Homo sapiens: one gene and its partners. The protein of the gene in region 2 interacts with the protein of the main gene of each other region in a pairwise test. Each region holds a gene or a part of one and is shown on either strand. Other genes may lie near its edges.

What was found.
Region 1: the proteins of TSC22D3 (region 2) and DCLK2 interact in a two-hybrid assay, tested with the Homo sapiens proteins (one large-scale study listed by BioGRID and IntAct).
Region 3: the proteins of TSC22D3 (region 2) and HPCAL4 interact in a two-hybrid assay, tested with the Homo sapiens proteins (one large-scale study listed by BioGRID and IntAct).
Region 4: the proteins of TSC22D3 (region 2) and MAD1L1 interact in binary tests that used the Homo sapiens proteins (3 or more experiments, as listed by UniProt).

What each region holds. Positions count from the first base shown.
Region 1 is NC_000004.12:150,231,945-150,235,444, reverse strand, and holds part of DCLK2 (serine/threonine-protein kinase DCLK2), read right to left. Parts: intron 3,109-3,500; coding exon 2,989-3,108; intron 2,764-2,988; coding exon 2,617-2,763; intron 1-2,616. UniProt on the Homo sapiens protein: Protein kinase with a significantly reduced C(a2+)/CAM affinity and dependence compared to other members of the CaMK family.
Region 2 is NC_000023.11:107,768,355-107,773,456, forward strand, and holds part of TSC22D3 (TSC22 domain family protein 3), read right to left. Parts: intron 1-5,102. UniProt on the Homo sapiens protein: Protects T-cells from IL2 deprivation-induced apoptosis through the inhibition of FOXO3A transcriptional activity that leads to the down-regulation of the pro-apoptotic factor BCL2L11.
Region 3 is NC_000001.11:39,688,634-39,692,772, reverse strand, and holds the start of HPCAL4 (hippocalcin-like protein 4), read left to right. Parts: upstream 1-1,339; 5' UTR 1,340-1,467; intron 1,468-1,602; exon of another isoform or gene 1,603-1,708; intron 1,709-4,139. UniProt on the Homo sapiens protein: May be involved in the calcium-dependent regulation of rhodopsin phosphorylation.
Region 4 is NC_000007.14:2,215,946-2,219,445, forward strand, and holds part of MAD1L1 (mitotic spindle assembly checkpoint protein MAD1), read right to left. Parts: coding exon 3,387-3,500; intron 2,099-3,386; coding exon 2,017-2,098; intron 343-2,016; coding exon 212-342; intron 55-211; coding exon 1-54. UniProt on the Homo sapiens protein: Component of the spindle-assembly checkpoint that prevents the onset of anaphase until all chromosomes are properly aligned at the metaphase plate.

The DNA of each region.
Region 1 (3,500 bases), on a different chromosome or scaffold from region 2:
CTGATTTCCTGATTGCATTCTGAGACTCATGATGTTGGAGACATCAATCCCCATTACATTACTTACTCTTAAATTTTTTAAATTTTAGCCAATTCTCCTGAAGAAGTGAAAAACATTATCCACCCTTGATGTGTGACAAGAAAAAAGGAGGCGGTGTCAGATTCTTTACATACATTAAGAAACTCTGAGTGGAAAAGAGAAGAAACAGGAGGTGAGAGTGAGATCTGTGAGCTGGGAAATGGACTCCCTGGTTTATAGGGAAGCTCACAAGCACCTCAGTCACCTTCTTTGCTGGGCCTTAAATCAGGGCTGTTGGACAGACTGGCTGCAGGGGTTCCTTGGGAACCTGTGGCTCCCATATTTTCAGAGAATGCAGTAACTAGAGCCAGTGGGGCAAGGCAGGTTGTGGAGAGCAGGAAGCAGTCAAGGGGGTATCCTTATGAATGCCCCAGTGTTTGTGTCTGGTCACACCTGGAGAAAGCCCTGTGCCTTTGTTTGCGAAGCCCGGGCCAAACTCAGTTCGACGGTGGAGGAGCCTGGCATGCTGCAAGGTCCCAATGGGCGAGAAGCCTGTTTTGAGGAGAGAACGCCATATCCTAACTTTCCTCCTGAGGCTCGGTTTACAACTCTGTCTCCATTCCTTGTTAGAGTTCATAAAACCACGTCCACAATCCCCCTTTTTTTTTTTTTTTAACACAGAGCAGGGATATTTCTTTTCCTAATAAGAACATATAGAAATGAAATATAATTCCCTCAAGGCAGAAGACAGTGAGATAAAATTTCAAATACTTTTAAATGGATACTCAGAAATCATCAAATGATATTACCAAAAAGAAAAGACGGGTACTCTGGATTAGATTAGCCAAAAAATAAAAAGTCCCCAGGATGGCTTCAGATGCTGTGCATCAATGCATATTCCTTTCAACAGTTATTTGTGTGGTGCTCACAGCAGGCTGTAGAGGCTCATGCTCTAGCACCAGCTGCTAGCTGAGTGAGTGTCAGTGGTCAGTGAGCAATACTCTGCTGTCCGTTATGTGTTTACGTGTCACCATCCAAACCATTGGAGATATAAAGATAATTAGACACAAACCTTGCCTCCATGGTACTTACAATCCCAAAGAGGCAGACAAGTGTATGATAAAGATCACAACACCGTAGCAAGTGCAGCAGAAACCCGAGGTGGCTGTGACTGAACTTTGTCTAGAAAGTCTAGAGTGATGTTAAAGAAGACTTAACTTTTGCTCAATGTATTACAAGATGAATGGTTTACCACAATGCTGGAAGAGAGGACGCTGCAAATGAAGACCAGTATGGACAGAAGCAATGGAGGTGTAAGGCTGCTGGTAAGTCAAGTCTTAACTAAAAACTGAGGATGGAGGAATCTGTGTTTGGATTAACATGATGTAGAAGACTCAGATAAGCTTGCCTCCCAAGCAGGAATGAGGATGAGAGCCCTGAAAGGTGGAAATAAAGAAGCCAACTATGTCATGTGTGTTTGTGGGGGGCTGGGAGGAGTGTAAATGTCAAATCCCCCAACCAGTTTCTCTAAAATTCTTCTATAACGTGGTCACGAGGATTGGTTCCCAATTAGCAAGCTGTGTCTAGTTATCAAGAGTCACCATGAAGGTGAGTTCAATATGGCTTGAAGCTTAGACCATGTTGGGTTGGATGGATAAGAGTTATTAACAGGACAGGAAGCTGAAAAGACAAATTGAGATCAGACTATGAAGAACTCTGGGTACCATAGTGGAATAAGACTTTTTATTCTGTAGAATAATAGGATAAAAGAGACTTCTAAGAAAAAAAAATGGCATCTCTTGGTCTCTGTTTCCATGCCTTTAGTAAAGCTGAGATGAATGGACTAGACTATTTCCAAAATTATTCCCTGCAAATAAATGAACCCCCACATTCTACTCCTGTCTCCTATGAGCCTCTAATTCTGTCTCAAATTTATTCTTCACAATTTTCTGCCCTATAAAATAATTTTCCTGCTCACCTTTAAGTCAGTACCATCAATTAAAATATAAATGAAAATGTATTTTCTTGTATCTGGTGACATGCTTTGGCTCTGTGTCCCCACCCAAATCTCATGTTGAACTGTAATTCCCAATGTTGGGGGAGGCACCTTATGGGAGGTGACTTGATTATGGAAGCAGATTTCCCCCATGCTGTTCCTGTGGTAGTGAGTTCTCATAACATACGATGGTTTAAAAATGTGTGGCACTTCCCTCCTCGCTCTCTTTCTCTCCTGCCACCATGTGAAGAAGGTGCTTGCTTCCCCTTCGCCTTCCGCCATGATTGTAAGTCTCCTGAGGCCTTCCTGTTAAGCCTGTGGAACTGTGAGTCAATCAAACCTCTTTTCTTCATAAATTACCCAGTCTCAGGTAGTTCTTTATAGCAGAGTGAGAAATATAGCAGAGTGGTAAATAACAAATGCAGAAAAATTCAAGAACTCCATTAGTATTTGATGGTCATTGACATAAGTCTTGCTAATTTTCTAAATTTAAAGTCTCATAATGTAGGATTGGTATAGACTATAAAATGCCATTATTTGCATGTGCTCCTTTTAAAGGAAGAGAGGCATTCATTGGAACAGAAAAAGCAGGGATGACATACCAAGAGATTCTCTGGTTTGATGTCTCTGTGCACGATGCTGAGGCCATGGAGATACCTGAGGGCATTGGCTAAGTTGTACACCATGGCACTGCCATCTCTCTCAGTGTACTTGGTCGACGAAGTAATTGCATCAAAGAGATCTCCACCCTAAACGATACATAAAAGAACATATCAAAGCATCAACAGTGCAATCCTATGAAGGTAAGAAAGATGGCTCATTGGCATAAAGCAGAGAATGACACAAGTGCCACTAAAATCGGCGATTATAAATAATGAAAGTTATGAGGTAGCAATACACTTTTCTGATTAGGTCCTTCAAGGATGTTGTAAATTGTGGGACTAGGCACCAAGAAAATCTCTCTATCCTCTTACTTTGACCAATTCCATCACCAGAAAGAGCTCAGTTGCTGTTTCCATCTCCTCGACCAGCATAATGATATTGGGATGTTTCACTCGGCGCAGTATTGACACTTCATTCTCAATCAGGTGTTCCTGTCAAATGAACGGTATAGAGAGGAGATCAGAAATCACAGAACCCTCTGCTCTCGAAGGCCTGGAGGACAGCAAAACAAACACAGCCTGTGGATCTGATGCCAAAGAAAGCATTGCTCTTGGCACAAAGACAACTAAACCTGACCTAATTGTCCCTGTAGGGACAGGGTCAGTGTGAACATATTATTGACATTACCAAAAAGATACAGACTCCTAAACATCCCCCAAAAGGCTCCATGGTGCTTCTGTGGTGTATTAAGCATACTGTCTTCTCGCTTGTCATTATTTCTAACACCTTAAGAGGTTGTGATGCTATGAAAGCTTCAGCACACAGCTCTGTGCTTTGTAATTCAGCCAGAGCCACTTTTTGATTTCGGTATACACTCACAAAT
Region 2 (5,102 bases):
AACCCTCTACCTGGAATGGAGAGCTTGTTGGATTATCTGCAAGTGCAAATATAAGCAGGAGTGTTAACCTTCTCTTCAGGCAGGGAAGAAAACTAAGGTCACCCTGGAAAGCATTATTTGCTGAGGTGTGGACTCAGTAAATAATAGTCCACTCCTGGCAAAAACTGAGGAGTAGATGAAATTCAAGCTCTGTGCTTCCCACCTTTCTTTAAGAGCATGAACTTTCCAAACAGATCTTTTGAACTCTCATGCTGTCCAGGCCCCGTGCTGTAACAGCCCAAGCTAGGCCTTCCATGGACTCCAGCCCCATCTCTCTACCTCTCTCCTCCAAAGTTGGCTTTGCCACATTCCAGTCCCATAGGACCCTATTCCCAGTGGGCTGTCACCATGACCAGAGGTCTGATAAACAAATCCATACAAAGTAGTTAATGGCAAGTAATGGTGTCACATGTTACTCTTTAAAAAGGTATGCTAGACCTTGGCCATTCATGAGAGATACACACTAAAACTTTTGCCAGTCTCCAACTCATGGATGCAATCTCCAAAGCATGTCATTTCCCCCATAAAAAGTCCATTCCCAGGCAGCACCATCACTTTGCCAAACTTTGTAGCTTTCTCTTCGTTGTAATCACTAGCACCAGCAGCTGGCTTAGAGAGGGAGCATTCTCCTCAAGGAATGCCCTGAGACATTTGCTCATTTTATGACAGGTTCCTACGTATGTGTTGACTACGAGCAGTAGACCACAAAATTGTGTTGAAAAGTAGGTGCTGGGCAATGCCACTCCTAGGTATATACCCCAAAGAATTAAAAGCAGGGACTTGAACAGATACTTGTACACCAGTGTTCATAGCAGCATTCTTCATAATAGCCAAAAGAGGGCAACAACCTAAGTGTCCACTGACAGATGAATGGATAAGCAAAAGAGGTATATCCATACAATGGAATTTTATTCAGCCATAAAAAGAATGAAGTACTGATATGTGCTACAACATGGATGAACTTTAAAACATGTTGAGTGAAAGAAATCAGACACAAAATATTGTATGATTCAATTTATATGAAATATCTAAATAGGCAAATCCATAGAGACAGAAAGTAGAATAGAGGTTACCAGGGGGTAGTGGGAGGGGAAAATAGGGAAACGGTGAGTTATTCTTTAATGGGTACAGAGTTTTTGTTTGGGATGATGACAAAATTTTGGGAATGATAATGGTTGCACAACATTGTTAATATACCTAATGCTACTGAATCGTACACTTAGAAATGGTTAAAATGGCAAATTTTATATCTATTTTACCACTATATATATATATGTACTATGTACAATATATGCATATAATACATCTCTCTCTTTCTCTTTCACACACACACACACACACACACACACACACTAGTAGATGTGGGGTAGGGCACCAGGCTCACTCATTGGTGAAAGGACCGGCCCCCACCTACTAGTCTCCTTGCACATGTGATTCACATCTGTGCCTCAGCAAAAACACAGTTTCTTACCAGTCTGAGTTCTCATGAAGTATCCAAACCATGAATGTTAAGTTTGCAAATGCATTTGTGCTTTTAATGGAGAAGGTCCCTTAATCCAAGAATGCCTATTCTTTGTCAGACCACTAGGCACTCAGGAAATAGTTATTTTAAATTACTTTGGGCTATGAAAGGACTTTTGAAGCTTGATACCAAAAGCAAAAATCACAAAGGCAAAGAATGACAGGCTTAACCACACAGAAACCCAAAACCGCTCTACAGCGAGTAACTCCATCCTCAAAATCAAATGGTAAATTAGTTGACAATGCGTTGCAATCTCTAATACAGGGTTTCTCACAGTGTGGTCTACATACCAGCGGTGCTCTGGGAGAGGAATTTTAGATGGTACATGGACAGAGAACTGAATCTTAAATAGTATGAACTTAGGCACTGCAGCAGGCAGCCACTCAAATCATGCCGTGTGAGTGGCCACCACCTCAGAAGCCAGGTCCAGGAATATACATTATGAAATTACTTGTTCTGAGACTCACTTAGAGAAGCACAAATAATTTTTTGCACAAATTTTTCTTGAAAACCTGATCTCTGAATCTATATCCTTCCCCTTTGTTACTATATTAATAGGGGATATTAAATGAATTAGCACACATAAAGCAATTAGAAATGTTTGCTATTTTTATCATTTTCTGAGCATTTATATATGGGAACCAGTTGGGGCCAGGTCAGAAGCTTAAAGGTAGAATCCTAGGGTTTTTAGAGCTGGAAGGGAAATCGGATTCAGAGTATTTCAGACCACACTAGCCAGGTACGCTCTGGGGTCAAAGGTAGAATAGAGCTGATTAAGAGGTTTTGGGTAAAATCTTAGAAAAAAATTTGAGGTTACAGCAACAGCAATCACAACGAATACTGTCAAAGCTCCTGTTACAGGTTGTTATACCTTACAGGTCAGAAAAATTAAGGAAGGCTCTTCAAATGTCAACTTGGGAAGCTTTTTCATATGCTACATTTAAATTGGAAACTTCTGCTGTTTGCCCAGAATATTCTATCTCCCTCCTAAGTTTTCCAGTATTAGAAGCATATTCAAATGACAAGGGGGAAGTCCCCTAACAACAGGGTGACCAACCATCCCAGTTTCCCTAGGACTGTTCCAGTTTGAGCACAGGCAGTCCTATGTCACAGGACTGGGATGGTTGGTTTCCCTACCTAATAAGGACATTTTGACCATTTGGAAAGGTTCTGAGCTCACATTTACCTCTGCTTCATAGACAATTCTTAAGTGTTACAAGAATTTCTTTAGCATTAGTTTAGTTACTGAGTGTTCTTAACAATTCTTTCTTCATAGACAATTCAGGCTCTGCTCTTCATTGTGAGGCATTGGGCAAGATACTTAATTTTTTCCAAGCCTCAATTTCCTTCTTTATAAAATGAAAATGGATGATAATAGTACCCATTTGGTCGGGCGCAGTGGCTCATGCCTGTAATCCCAGCACCTTGGGAGGCCGAGGCTGGTGGATCATTTGAGATCAGGAGATCGAGACCAGCCTGACTAATATGGTGAAACCCCATCTCTACGAAAAATACAAAAATTAGCCGAGTGTGGTGGCGTGCGCCTGTAGTCCCAGCTACTGAGGAGGCTGAGACAGGGGAATTGCTTGAACCCAGGAGGTGGAGACTGCAGTGAGCTGAGATCGTGCCACTGCACTCCAGCCTGGGCGACAGAACAAGACTCCGTCTCAAAATAAATAAATAAATAAACAAATAAATAAATAAATCCATTCCAAAGAGTTGATGTAAATATTAAATTAGATTATGCAGGTACATTGTGAATGTTCAAGAAGTGTTAGTTATTAATCTGTTATGGTTATTAGTTACATAATACAAGATTGAAAGGATGGTGTTTAAAATACACTTCTTCCCCAACCCAATTGTTTACAGGTACCATTTACATACCAACAGGCTGCATGCCCATTCTCACTGATTCGTATGTATATACACAGCACTATCAGGACTTCCATCAGGCTATGAGAGTTACTGCATGTGGTTAAAACGGAAGGAAAACAACTTTTAAACATTAATAAGGATTTTCTAGCACAGTATAAAGTTGTAAAATCTTTACAAGGGACCACGTCAATATTTAAGTAGTCATCCAACTGAAGAAACCTTTATTGAATATTGGCTGTATAACTAAAAGCCAAGGGAAAACCAAGCAAGTAAAACACAGCCCTACCCTCAAATTGCTTATACTCTTGTGTTCCAAGGAAACCAAGAACGAAGCTGGGAGCCAGGGACAGGTCAAAGCAGACAAACCAGATGTAAATCAAGAATGTGCCCTGCTCTTCTTCCTAAAAATATAGGAGCCCTCTTGGCAAAGGAATGGACTGCAGGAGGAGGGGTGGGAGACTAGCTTCTCCAGCAGGAGAGGCCTTGAAAGTTGACAAAGGAAAAAAGCACCCAACAGGAACCTGAAATGTCAAATCATTAAATTGAATAGAAGTAAAAACGATGGCTGAAGTATGATGATAGAAACCCAGGGAATTTAATGAAGTAACAAGGGATATGTTCACTTAGGAGAAGGCTGTCTACCCCAGATATTGGAGAAGCCCCATGACCAGCAATAATGGTCTTCTAGTTTGCTAATGAGCATGTCATACTGGGCAAAACCTAAACCGAATTCAGAATCCCCAGTCTCTAAGGTCCCAATTGTCAAGGAAAACAAGAGGGGATCAGTGGCTCATGCCTGTGATCCTGGCACTTTGGGAGGCTGAGGTGGGCAGGTCGCTTAAGCCCAGGAGTTTGAGACCAGCCTGCACAACATGGCAAGATCCCGTCCCTATAAAAAAAAAATACAAAAATTAGCTGGGCATGGTGGTGTGTGCCTGTAGTCCCAGCTACTTGGGAGGCTGAAGTGGGAGGATCGATGGAGCCCAGGAGTTTGAGGCTGCAGTGAGCTGTGATCATGCAACTGCACTCCAGCCTGGGTGACAGAGTGAGACCCTGTCTCAGGAAAAAAATAAATAAATAAAAATAAATAAAAGCAAGAGAATACTTTGTCCTCTTAGAACTATAAGACTGTTACCACAGGACCCTGTTATTCCCAGCCTTAGCGAAGCCTGAGAGCTTGCTGGTTAGCTCCTCACTGGTTTTGAACGCTGAGTGAGTTGCTCTGATCGAAGGAGGCAGGGTGCTCACACAAACCTTTCCTACAATTTGCGCTTCTCCCTCAACCAATACCTATAATGCCACCCCACTACATCTCCACCCTGTAGCATTTCCAGGCTTTGCCTAAAACCAAGAGTCAATAAACTCGTATTAGTGGAGTAGATGACAAAGGAGGTATTCCCTTTCCACAAACCCAAACAACCAGGATGCTCCCGAGGTGTGGCAGAAGGAAACACTTTGATCTCAGGCTTTTAGCCTCACACTTCCCTCACCCAGGTTTGACCCTCCTAGGGCCAGAACCAGAAGAGGCGCCCCCTCTCACACTTTCCTAAAGCCTGGAGTGGCAGTTTCTCTCCCAGTTGAACAAATGCAAATGCTACAAGCGCTCTTTCCAGGTTTTTCTACTACCCCTCCCCCACTGCCACTCTCCAACAGAGACAGGCGGGAT
Region 3 (4,139 bases), on a different chromosome or scaffold from region 2:
AACGGGACAGGTCCTAAAGAAAAGGGACGTCCACGGGTTCCTCCCCCAGCGAGCCTGGCCCAGGCATTTCTGGGACCAGCTCCAGAAGCCTCGCCCCCACTCGCGGCAGGTCTGACCCCATCCTCCATCGCCCCGCCCAGCCCACCTCTACCTTCGCCGCGCGGACAGAAGCCCCGCCTCTCACCGCTGCTCTTCAGCGTCCGCGCTCCGATTAGGCCAATCCCCAGCCGTCCGCCCCGACTTTCGACAGATCCTTAGAAGTCCCTGCCCCGCACGTGGCCCAGCCCGGGGATGTCTGGCTCCCCTTTTGCCCCCAGTTTGGCTTAAAAGGGTTCCTTCCCACAGCCTTGTGTCAGGAGCTCTCAGACGCCAGTGCAGCCCAGGCGGCCGGCCCGGGCTGTGGGGAGACCCCCAAGTGCGGGGAGGAGGTGTTGCCGGGGCCCTGAAAGCTTCCAGACCCGCTCAGTGTAAACCGCCTCGGGTTTGTGTCAACATCCGAGGCCGGAGACTGGCGGCGGCTGGGGACCGGCTCCGTCTGCGGGACGGGAAAACGGGAGGGTGGGGAATGGAGGATCCATGGCTAGGCATAGGGGTCCTTCGGGGGAGAACGCGAGAGGCCTCTTGGGGGTCCATGAGAAAGGAGGAGGGCCCGTCTGGGGAGGGACCGGAATGAAGGGCCAGAGGGGTGGCTGGAGGGAACCCACGACTAGCGCGGGGCTAGGTAGAGGCTGGGACTTCGCCACCCATACCGCGCTCTCCGCGCGCAACCAGCACCCTCCTCTCTGCCCCACGGCGTGAGGGGAGTGGATGCGTGGGGAGGGGGGACGCAGAGATGTGGACTGCTGACCAGCCACCTCCTCCCTCTCCCACCCAGCTCCTCCCCAGCTCCTCTTTGGCCCCTCCCAATTTCGGGTGGGATATGGGTGTGGGGGGGGGTCTCATCTTGTGACTCATCCCCTCTTCCGCCCCCACCCATGCTGGGGCCCAGGAAAGGAAGCTTAGAGATTCGGCTGTGGTTCTCCCGTTTCCATAGCAACGGTGAGGTTGTTTTTGAGAATCCACTTTCATCGTCGACCCTTTCCACCCCAGACTTGTAAGCCGGGGGCTGAGCCTCAGGGCAGGGGTGCAGATGGGGGTGCAGCCCTCCCGCTTCCCGGCGACTCCGGGAAGGTCAGCGCGGGCAGGCGGGGCGCGCTCCTGCGGCCGGGCCTCGCCGGCCACCCGGTCCCCACCTGAAACCCCGCCTGCCACTCCGCTCCAGAGGAGCCAATAGCCGTGCAACCTGCCCGGGATGGGGCGGGGCTTATGCAAATAGTGTCGCCTTCGGGAGGCACATAGTGATACAAGAGCTGGAAGGCGGCTCCGGCGCAGACCTTGGAGAGCACAGCTGCCGGCCCGCGAGCCAGCCTCGGTTCCCGCGGCCCGCCGAGGCTCGGAGCCATCCAGCGACCCGGCGACCGGCCTCAGGTAATGCGAGTGGGACCGGGTCCTCAAGGCAACAAACCCACCGGGCGGAGGCCCTGGCCCCCTCCCCCTCCACTCTCCCTTCCCATCCTCATGTCCTGCCCTGATTCACCTCCCTGACCCGTGGTTCCGCCTTAGGCGGCAGCAACTGAAGAGCCCACCCCTGGGCAGGAGACCCCCCACCTCAGTCCAGGCCCATGGGTGCAGAGAAGGAGGCAGAGCCGCCTACTTATCCCCAGCTCAGGTGAGAACAACCATTGCTATGGCCCCCAACATACACGCGCGCAAACACACATACACACACAGATGCACACACACACATCTGGGGGTGTGGTGGCGCTGGTGCTAGCTGGAGGCGCTGGTCACCCTCCCTCCTGTTTGGATATGGGTTGTCTGCCCAGCACCATGGCAAACTCCCACCTCCACGGATAGCCCCTAGCCACTTCTCATCAGGGAGCCCCTGCCCCCAAAGACAGCCTCCCCCTCCACAGAGCGCTCCCTCCTTGTTGTCCCCAGACACTGTCCCCACATCCCACCCCTCAAGCTGACAGAGCCCACAGCATACCTGAGGGGGGGACAATCCCCCTTCCCCAGTTTTTCTCCTCACAGTCTCGACAGCCCTCCCCAGTGGCCCCCAGTGCTAGGCAGAGGCCCCATATTTGGCATCTCTCATCCTGGCGGGAGGATGAACCAAAGACACCACCCCCAGCAGACCACCCATACCGTCAGTCCAGTTGCTGCCAAGGCCCCAACCTCCATACCTCCTCCCTCCCCCCTCACAGCCAGGCACCAAATCCTCTCATTCTGCCTGTCAAATGTCTTTCTAATTTGTATGACTATTTGCTCCCTCTCTCCCACCTTCCTGCTGCTCCGTGGGGACCTTGCCAAGGTGCCATGTGGGCTGTATTGCTCTTGGCCCTAAAGTGAACTATACCTGGAGGGCAGATGAGCTGGGTTCAAATCTTGTACAGCCAAAGTTTGACTTTGGCCAAGTCACTCCCCTCTCTGATCCTTCATGAAAATGGGGAGAGGTATAACAGAGAGGGTAGACTGGGTGAGATGAACTTGAACAGCCTTCTGGCACTGAGACACTCTGGTTCTATGGCTGATTATGGAAAAACAGGATCCTGAACCAAGAGGACATTAAAGAGAGGAGACCTGAGGGGGGCGGGGTTGGTTTAGAACTCACTGAAGACACATTCCTTCTTAACCAGCCTAGGTACAGGCTACCTCCTCCCACACATTCTCCAGGCCCCTTCTATTAGGAGTCCCTCCTAGACCACCAGCCCATCCTGACATGGACAGCTCCAAATTGTAGGTGGCCAGCTGGGATTACTCTTTGTTTGTCATCCCCTGCCTCTCATTAAGAAGAAGAGGGAAAAGACCTGGTTGCTGCTGCTATTGCTGCTGCTTGGGGAAGAGCAAAGGGAGGAGAGGAAAGAGAGAAAAAATCTCCTGACCAGGGAGCTATTGTCACCATGGCAACCACCTCAGTACCAGCTCCTCTGAAGCTGGGTGAGGGTGTGGGATTATTGCCTCCTTCAGTCCCTCCCATTCAAAGCCTCAGCCACCTCTCCATTCAAAGCCCACAGCCCTTAGCCCTCTTGAAGAAACCTCTGGGCACACTGGGACAATGGTTTTGTGTATGGGACAGTCCCAGCTCCTTCATAGCTGGAGGACAGCCCTCAAGAGGTAAGCAGAGGAGCCTGCCCATGTTCAGCAGGGCCACAGCTCCAGCAGAGCATGTCCCCAGCTGGGTTCTGGCCTTCACTTTGCTGCTGATGGGCTATAGTTGACCTGGGGTGAACCCTTCCTTCCCCTAGGTCTGGGTTCCATTGTCTCTGAAGTGGGTGTGATAGCAGGAGAACACAGATAAACAAAACAGCCTGACATAGATCCAGGGAGGAAGAAGGGGGTTCTGCTCCTCTTACGTAATCCACCAAGAGACATTCATTGAACATCACTGTGTCCTAGGCATTGCCACTGCGTCTCCACAGAGCAGTTCTGTGCAGGCACAGAAGGCAGGGTGGGAACCAGGGTAGGGGAGCTATAAGAGAGAAAAAACCCCTGCTCTCATGGGTCCCAGACTCAGTGAGGACTAAGCACTCACTGGGAGAAGTGAGTGCATAGGGAAAAGCACTTTTATTTTCCCCATGGGAAAAATAAACTTTTCTCACGCTTCAACCTGCTCAAAAGTGGACTGGGGCATATTGGAGGGGATCAACTCCTTGCCATTGAGCAAAAAGGTCTGGAGGATTTTTTTTCTGACTCAGGCAGGGGTTTAATGCAAAGACCTGTCTCAAATCAGACTGCATCCTGGAATTCTACAGCACCAGGTGAGGGTCAGAGGGCTATGAAGTCTACACGCCTGTGGGGGACTGACTCATGCCCAAAGTGCTGAGCTTGGGCTGCTGACTCTCCACTGTCCAGACTGGAAAAGGCTGATCATAAGGAAGCAGGCTTCAACCAGGCCCTGAAGACTGATTATAGTCCAGGAGAGAAGAAAGGATATTAGGGGAGAGGAAAATAGCTTAGCAAAGAGGTGAGGCGTGTCTGGCTGTGAGAAGGCTGGCTTGAGAGGAGTATGCGGTGGTGAGTGAGCAATGAGAGCTGAGGCGAGATAGGTGGGCACTTTGAGACCAGATTCTAGAGGATTCTAGAGTTTCAGGGGGCCC
Region 4 (3,500 bases), on a different chromosome or scaffold from region 2:
CTCTGCAGCCCTTCCAGCTCTTCCTGGAGCAGCCCGTTGGTCTCTCTCATCTCCCTGGCAGTGCCACAAAGAGTCGCTCAAATAGCCACACACCCTAGGGATAAGGCCAAGAGCCCGGGAGCCCTGCCCCTACAGGGTCTGCACAGTGGGCTCCATGTGCACAAACCCAGACTCACTCGAGGCGGCTGCCCCATCCCCCGCAACCCCTCACCGCAGGTGCGCGCTCTCCTCCCGCAGCTGCTTCAGCTCCCGTTCCAGCCTAGGGAGCCGTACCAGCTCAGACTTCATGTTCTTCACAATCGCTGCATCCTGCTCTTGCAGGGACAGCTTCTGCTCCAGATCCTGATGGAGGCCAGGGACAGAGAAGAAGGGAAAAATGAGCCACGAAGAGACCTGGAGAAAATCACACGCACACGGCTAAGAGAAGGAAGCCGGTCTGCAACGGCTATACACACTGCAGGATCCAACCACAGGACGTTCTGGGAAAGGAAGGGGTTGTCAAGGGCTCAGAAGGAGAGAGGCAGGGATTGACTGGGGGAGCAGAGAGGATTTTTAGGCAGTAAAACTTTTCTGTGTGACACTCTAATGGCAAATATAGAACATTTTACATCTGCCCGAACCATACACTGTCCCACTCCAAGAGTGACCCTCGCATGACCCGTGGACTCTGCGTGACACTGATGTGTCCAGGCAGGTTCATCACCGTCACACGTGCTCCACTCTACCAGGGTAGGCTGTGTGTGTAGGAGCGGGCGCAGGGGGTACACAGGAGCTTTACCTTCTGCTCATTTTGCTGTGAACCTAAAATTGCTCTAGAAAATACCATCCATTAAAAATTAAAGTCATTGAGGTCACAAAGTTCCTTCGCTAAACTGCCCCAGGTCCTCAGCAGCCTCCATGCCTCAGGACTCTCCTGTGGGAGGCCTTCCTGGGCTGCACCAGGGGCCTCGAAGCTGCTTCCAATACTGAGCCTCAGCATCCACTCCAGGGCAGCTCTTCCCAGCGCCGACCTCCCAGCCCTCCGCGTACTGGGAGCTGGCATTCACACTGCACACTGCCGGGCTGCTGTGCTCACCACCTGCCCTCGGGGAGCTCTCCAGGAGCAAAAGTCTGTCTCAAGTCTGGTCCAGGATGGCACTCCATGGTAAAACATCCCACCCCTCCCGTGTCAAGCCCACTTCTGCCACTCTAGCAGCACGTGTGACAGCTCAGTCTTTCCAATAGTGAGGACAGGCTTTTCCCTACGGTACCCAGTCCCCTTGGGACACAGACAGCTGGCATCTGTGAGCAGCAAGTCACTGAACAGGCAGAGTATGAAACCACGACCAAACCAGACGGTCATTCAACAAACACTAACAGAGTCCATCGCCCTGCCAGCCAGAAAATCCTGAGAGGTGGACTGAGGGCTGCGAGGGGCCAGGGACCACCACCAGGAGCGGACATGGCAGAGGCCAGGCTGGGGGTGCCGGGCAGCTCTGCAGCCAGGAAGAGCTGGTGTGAAGCCTGGAGGTGAGGGTGCATAAGGGCTGAGAGGGCACGGCCAGAGCACAGGGTCTGGAGGCTGCTCTCCAGGCAACAGGAGGCAGGAGAGGGATCTGGAGTCAACGTCTCCCTGGCACGTCCTCCGCAGGGAAATGGCACAGCCTGAGCTTGAGTCAGATGCCCTGACTGAGACCCAGCTCCAGCTGTGCAACTGTGGGCAGCTTTCTCAACCTCTCTATGCCTGTAGCATCTTCTCACGCTCATCAGCACTTGACGTCATCACACACACGGACATTTTCTCTTGGTGTTTGTGGTCAGTCTCCCTCCTCTAGAATACACGCTCCCAAGAGCGGAAGCATCTGCCTCATTCACCATGGCATCCCTGGTGCCCAGCACAGTGCCCAACACACAGGGCAGCAGCTAACCTCACAGAAGGACCACGGAGCTCGGCACCAGCGCAGAAAGGCCGACAGGGGCAGGAGAGTCAAGGCCACCACAGGGATGTCCACAAGGCACTGACAGGGAGTGACTCACCTTAATCTGCTGCTCGTGGTCTGCTCTTGCTTCTTGGCTGGCCTGGAGTTCCTGGATTTTCTGATTGGCTTCCTGGCATTTTCTATTGAAAGAAAAATACATCACACACAGAAACAGGCATGCGGCAAGGCCAACAATTCTCCTCAGCCTGAGACCCGCCCCAGCACAGACCCACATACGTTCATTCCCACCCCAAGGTTCAGGACCTCCCACGGCACAGACCCCCCGCCCCCCGCCAACACACACTCCACTGCATGGGTACCCCAAGGTCCCAGGCCCCAGCCCCTGTGGGCTGGCTCTCAGGCCTCAGTCTGCTCATTCAGACGGGGTGCGTAGTGAGCCCAGGCCACCTGCAAGGACCTCTCCAACAGTGGAACCCACAGCTCTCACCTGCCTGCGGCAACCCCCAGCCCTGGTGCAGCTGCGGTAGGGCCCCACCCAGGAATGACCTCTCCTCTCTACTACGGAACTAGAACTCTCCTAAAACCACATCTGCTGATGGAAGGGTCCAAGTCTGCAGGAGATGCCCACAGTCTCCTGACTGCACCTCCAGACAAGGCTCTCACGTCTGTGCCTCGGCTCAGCCCTGTGCCTGGACATCCCTTCCCAGCCACGCCCCCTCCACCTCCAAGGCACATGATGCTGCCCTTTCAACCTAGCCCTCAGCAGGGTACGGCGGCTCAGCCTGGGATCCCAGCACTCTAGGAGGCTGAGGCAGGAGGATCGCTTGAGGCCAGGAGCTCAAGACCAGCCTGGGTTACAAAGCGAGACCGCCATCTCTACAAAACGTTTTTTAAAATTAGCCAGGTGCAAAACTAATCCCAGCTACTCAGGAGGCCGAGGCAGGAGAATCACTGAACCCAGGAGGCGGAGGCTGCAGTGAGCCGAGATGGTGCCACTGCACTCCAGCCTGGGTGACACAGCGAGACTCAATCTCAAAAAAAAAAAAATTAGCCAGGTGTACTGCACATGCTTGCAGACCCAGTTACTCGGGAGGCTAAGGCAGGAGGATCACTTGAGCCCAGGAGGTTGAGGCTACAGTGAGCCATGATTACACCATTGCACTCCAGGCTGGACGACAGAGTGAGACCCTGTCTCAAAAAATAAAGTAAAATCTGGCTCTGCAGGAGCCCTCTCTAAGAAGGAGGGGGAGGAAGTTGCTGCCCCCATTCTGCTCCAGGAACATCAGGACACTTTCTGGGCTCACGGTCCTGGCTCCAGAGGCCTCAGCATCTGCCCCTCTTGAGTGTCTGTGAATTAGGACAGCATCTGGGAGTGTATCCACATCCCACCCAGCCACCAGGAGAGAGGTGGGACGCATGCCCCCACACGTGACCCGACCCCCGACCCCACACCCTGGCCCCGCCCACTTGTGTTGCAGGTCCAGCTGCTCCTGCAGCTCCTGCTTCTCCGACTCCAGGCGCTTCACCCGCATCTCCTGGTCCATCACGCTCCACTGCAGTTCCGAGATCCTCCCCTTCAGT